Linked DNA regions of Homo sapiens: region 1 is linked to region 2. The links come from fine-mapping of genetic effects on gene expression. A gene starts in region 2. The other region holds a variant in brackets. All regions are shown on one strand. Distances are between the middles of the regions.

Region 1 (2,911 bases), 250 kb before region 2:
AGCACTTTGGGAGGCCAAGGTGGGTGGATCACCTGAGGTCAGGAGTTCAAGTCCAGCCTGGCCAACATGGTGAAACACCATTTCTACTAAAAATACAAAAATTAGCTGGGAGTGGTGGTGGGCACCTGTAATCCCAGCTACTTGGGAGGCTGAGGCAGGCAAATCGCTTGAACCTGGGAGGTGAGGTTGCAGTGAGCTGAGATTGTGCCATTGCACTCCAGCCTGGGTGACAAGAGTGAACCACCATCTCAAAAAAAAAAAAATAAATAAATAAATAAAAATAAGAAAAAGTAAAATGGTTGTGTATTACTTTAGTATCCTGATTTAAAAAATAAATAAACACTATTAATAACCTTGCCTTTCTTTCAGGGACCAAATAAAATTCCACCTTTCCCAAGAAGCTTTATTAAAAGTGATCTCTAATTCCTCTGTACTTGGCTCCCCTCTGGCAGTTGAGGAGGCCCGTGTGCACGTAACTGTTACTTGTGTATGTCTGCCTCATTCTACACACTGGCTTCTTGGGGGCGAGTCTTATTCAATTTTGAGTTCTTCATATTGCTTATTTACTAAGTAAATACTCAAATATTTTTTGAACTAAGAATGAATGGAAAGCATAATTGGACATCTGAGTTAACTAGTCAGAGGCTCACTTTTAAGTATCTGTATCAAGTTATTTTCTAACAATATATTTACTTGTGACTATGGGTCTGCCCTTCCTTTAAATTCATGTGAAACATGTTACCATGATGGATGATTTTATCTGAATTATCATTGGCATTTTTAGCTGTGAGTGACTTCCAGACCTGGTCTCTTCTTCCTTCTGAGCTGCAAAACAGCATCAACATTTGCCTTCGTGTTCTTTCTTGCTTAGAGAAAGAAAAGTGAACTTGAAGATGCTAAACTTCTACATTATATTGTATTCATTTAGCTTGGCATTTGCCAGTGAGGAAGAAGATCCCCTTTTGTGCCTGAACTGGATGGCTCAGAATCCCAAACCTTTTCCTATGTGTTTGTCTCCATCAACACTTGCAATAATAATAGTGCATGATAAATAGCCACAACATCTCCGTGGGATACAAAAACAAGCACTTATTTCTTATTCACACACCTGCAGTTGACAGAGGTTCAGCTGACCTAAACTGGGCTTGCCTGGACTTGGCTCTGGGATGTGGATTGGGCTCAGTTCTGGACCACATGTTTCTTATCCTCCACGTGCATGTTCTTCTCATGGGGGAAGGAAGGAGAACAAGAGACAAAGCCACGCATACAGGCACATGTCATGTCTCTCTACTTGTCTGATATTCTGACCTCCCATTGGCTATAGCGAGTCACATGGCCAAGGCTAACATCAACAGCAAGGGAAATGCACTTCTCTCTTTAGGTTGTGGGACAAGGGGAGAGAGTGAACATTTGTTAAACCGTAAGATAATCTACCCCAGGATTACAGCAGTTTTTATCCTCATGATTTTCCTTTGCTGCACTCTAAATTTCACTATTCAGATAAATTGAGAGGCATGAGAAATGGCATGGTAAGTTGTG[A/G]TCTACCATATTTCCTGCTTTCTGAACTTTTACATGTTCTAGATAAAACCACTCCTAGTAAATTATTAAATCTGCTGAACATTTTTCACATGATGCACTTGCCTCATTTTAGGATCTCCCTCTTTTTTCATTTCAAATATTAAACTTCTGGCAGTCACCTCGCAGACATTTTATATGCCAGAAAACATTCTTTTGCAACAAATCCCTAACAACAAATTTCCTAGCTCTTTGCTCATTTGCCTATAACACTGTCAAGCAAAGCTCTTCAGGACAGAGATTCCAGGAAATGAATAATAATGTGCTTTCAAGGACTTAATGCAAGCAAAGAAACCAAAAATTGATTAAAGAAATATTGTCCACTAGATAGATATCTTCATAATGAAATAAAGCTCCTGTTTCATTGATGTTAATTTGAATTTTATACAGAGCCTCTGTAATTGGGTAGAATCCTGGAGAGAGGAATCAAGGGAACACAAATTATAAGCTTTTTCTATCATAATAAAAGAAGCATGCTTCATATCATTACTTTTCCTGCAGAACAGGATTTGATTCGGAGGAAAATCAAATTAACTTTTTAAAGTACTAGTATTATGTAACGTGACGTAGTGTAAACTATCATAATAATTTGTTAGCATTTATTAAATGATTAAATTACTATATGCTAAGTACTTATATGCTGGCGTAGACATATATTCTCTCACTTAAATCCTCATAATAGCCCTGTGAGATAGATATTATTATATCCCCCATTCATAATATAATATGTTATGCAATTGAATCAAAGCCATAGATATGCCTCTCTAAATTCAAGATAGAGGGTAAAATAACAAGGCAAGAAAAATAGGGAAGACTCAGCATTTCGCAAGCCAGGGCGCATAGTTGTTTTCTATTATTGCAGAGTGAGTTTTTCAGTTTCATTATGAAGGTAAAAGCATTGTCAGCATTCAAACCATTGACATCAAGTCAGAAAAACTTATTGGAGAAGTTTATTGTACTGATATTTCATCAAATGTACATTAAGGGGTTCCAAATGCAATGACCTACTTTCTAATCCCACCTTGGTCTATGTGATGTTTTGGCTATGCTGCAGTTTTCCTGTATGCGTTATTGATTTCTATCTCACTCTTATTTCTATTGGCAGGTTGTTTTAACGGCAACAGAAAAGGTAGGAGTAGGTTATAAACTGAGGCTGTACTTCTGTCGTGCACTGTAAGCATTTTCTGGACTCCCCTGAAGCCTAGGAGTGCCAGGAGCACCAATTCTCTGGCTGTAATAAAACTTTCTATATTTGGATGTGATTTATCTCATGAGTTGGTTTGAGGTATCTCAAAGTGTATATTAATTAAGCTCCAGCCCCACAGCTGGCAGCCTG
Region 2 (2,911 bases):
AGGATCTCAGCTGCACCAAGCGCGCAGGCTACACTCCTGCAGTAGCGGATTGGGGACCAGATAAGCCCACGCGGCTCCCGCCTGAGTACCCTCTTAACTGGCGGCCGACACTTTGAAACAATTGAGTCCGTTCAGAAACGGACTGGGGAGAGTGAGGGCACGACCTCAAAATCCTAGGCAGCAAAATGAGGTCTGGATCCTCCCTGGAAGAACAGACATCTCGACTACTCTCTCGCCCCACCTCTGGCCGGGAGGTCGGGGCAAGGAGAATCCCTCAACCGAGAAGATCTGGCAAGTCCCCGATCCCACCGGGGCCTTCCGCCTCTTTTCCCTCATCCCCTAGGAGGCTTTATCAGGTTCTAACCGCTTGTAGTGGGGGCCGTGGGTGCTCGGGGCGCCAAGAGGAGGGGGCTGCCGAGAGCGGCCTGCCTAGTTCTCAGCATTGCCTCTTTGACCACTCGCAGGCTCCTGGAAATGCAAACACAGCCCGTGCGTGATCCGCACGCGACCAAAAGCCGAGCGCACACCTCCCGCCCCCGCCCCACTTGCCATCGCTCACACTAACGTGCACACATGCTCGTGCAAACGCGCACGCACGGAACCGCGCGCCCCCTCACACCCAGCCGCGCTCCCGGCCCGGCTCAGCCAGGTGCCCCCACGCGGCAGCGCCCGGTCTGCCCGCCGGCCCCCTGCGAACCCCTCGCCTCACGCCCGCCTGCCTGCGCGCACGCACGCGCACGCACGCATTCCCCACGCCCCCGCGCGGGGGCGCAGGCCTTGGGTGGCGGGGTTTGGCCGGGAGCCGGCCGGGCCAGGGAGCGGCGAGCAGAGTCCAGGGTGCATCCCGCGCTTGGCTTCCGTGCGCAGCCTCCCCGCGCGGAGGCACCTGGCTCCCTCTCGGCTCTAGAACGCGAACAGTTGGCGTTGAGCACACAACTCCTCCTCCTTCTCCCCCGAGACCCCTGTACCCTCCCCGCGCGCCATCTCCCGCCCCTCATAACAGGCCCGAAGAGTAAACCCCCAAACGCGTCCAGAAGCGGCTCCCAACTCTTCGCCGGGAGCACGTTGGAGGCTGGATTTCGGAGAGACTCGGGATTGGGGTCTATTGCCGGCCCCTCCTGGATCCGGCTTGATTTTCATATTTTAAGAAGATTTTCTTATTACCTTTGATTACTCCTTTTTACCAAATTTCTGGAGGAGCTCAGTGGGGAGGATTGGGGGGAATCTGATTTTAAGAAAGAAAGCACCGAAGGGGCAATTATTAATTTTCCTCGGGTTTGGAATCACCCTCTGGACAAGAGAACGGGCGAGCGGGAGCTAGGAGGGAAGAGTGGAGAGGACCGGCGAGGCGCGCCAGCCGGAGCCACCTCCTTCCCGGCCGCCCCCTCCCCACTCCCCCTACACACACACGCTCGCTCGCTCGCCGGCGCGCGCACACCCCCCGCGCCGGACCCGCACCTCGGCGGGCGCCACACACTCGGCAGCCCGAGCCGCGGTAGCCGCAGCGGGATGGAGGCGGCGCGCACGGAGCGCCCCGCAGGCAGGCCGGGGGCGCCGCTTGTCCGGACGGGGCTCCTACTCTTGTCGACGTGGGTCCTGGCCGGCGCCGAGATCACTTGGGACGCGACAGGCGGTCCCGGACGCCCGGCGGCCCCGGCTTCGCGGCCACCGGCGTTGTCTCCACTCTCGCCGCGGGCAGTGGCCAGCCAGTGGCCGGAGGAGCTGGCGTCGGCGCGGAGAGCCGCCGTGCTGGGGCGCCGGGCCGGACCAGAGCTGCTGCCCCAGCAGGGCGGCGGCAGAGGCGGTGAGATGCAGGTGGAAGCCGGAGGGACATCACCGGCAGGCGAGCGGCGGGGCCGGGGCATCCCAGCTCCTGCCAAGCTTGGCGGCGCGAGGAGGAGTCGCCGGGCGCAGCCCCCAATCACCCAGGAACGCGGGGACGCCTGGGCCACTGCTCCGGCCGATGGTTCCAGAGGAAGCCGTCCCCTTGCTAAGGGTTCCCGGGAGGAGGTGAAGGCGCCGCGGGCTGGGGGGTCGGCGGCTGAAGACCTCCGGCTGCCCAGCACCTCCTTCGCGCTGACCGGGGACTCGGCCCACAACCAAGCCATGGTGCACTGGTCGGGACACAACAGCAGCGTGAGTACCCACCCGGCGGCGGGTCCGCCTGTTTCCTGACACCGAAGGGGAATGGGGGGGTGGGTGGGAGCGAGGGACAGATAGTTGCTCGGGGGTCGAGGCGGGGGACGCCTCGACTTTTCGAGATAACAGGTTTGTCCGATTCCCCCCACGCCCCCAACAGGTTAACGGAGTTTGTTGTTAGACGCTGTGTGTGTTTGTTTACTGGAGACCCTAGGCTTCGGCCGCCGGGAGGGGAGTGGAGGAAGGGGCTTCTTAAAGATGAGTGGGGGAGGGATCTGTGCTCACTTTCTCCAATACTTGGCTTGGAGGGTCAGTTTTCCTGTTTGCGGGGTGCTTGAATTCTTGGATGAGAAAAAGGGCTGACTTGGGGCGGGAGCCGCTGAACAGACCGATTCCTGCGGCTGCCGGGCTCCCCCTACCCCCACCCCACCCCCACCCCCCCTCCCGTCACGCGAAAGGGAACCCGGAAGGCCATTCGGACTCCCAGCCTCCTGCTCGCCTCGGGGTCGCTGCTATCCGCTCCAGGCGCGCAGTCCTCCAGCCCAAGAGGGAGGCTCGGCCAAGTCGGCCCCCAGCCTTGGCCTTCAGGTAACCCCGGTTCCTCCTTCAAAGTCCAGGGAGCGGCCCTGGAAAGCCGTAGCAGAGGCCGTAAAAAAAAGTTTAAAGCGTGAAGCGAAATTCCACACCCATCCAGCGCTCATGCCACACCGCTCGCCCTCACGCACGCACAGGCACACGGAAGTCGCTCAGCAGAAAACTCTCGACTTCACCA

What was found. PIP is the estimated chance that this variant, and not a neighbour inherited with it, causes the effect.
Region 1: its variant is the best candidate, but not a certain one, in a credible set for the expression of SORCS3 in whole blood (TOPMed, PIP 0.67).

Annotation. Positions count from the first base shown.
Region 1 is chr10:104,386,128-104,389,038 of GRCh38, forward strand. All of the region lies in intron 9 of CFAP58 (cilia and flagella associated protein 58), which reads left to right. Among named protein-coding and RNA genes, the nearest start is that of CFAP58, 34 kb to the left of the region's middle. The variant A/G (reference allele first, on the strand shown) is at 1,540.
Region 2 is chr10:104,639,819-104,642,729 of GRCh38, forward strand. It overlaps SORCS3 (sortilin related VPS10 domain containing receptor 3), which reads left to right and starts at 1,472. Exons shown (of 27, transcript NM_014978.3): 1 at 1,472-2,136. The coding sequence starts at 1,510.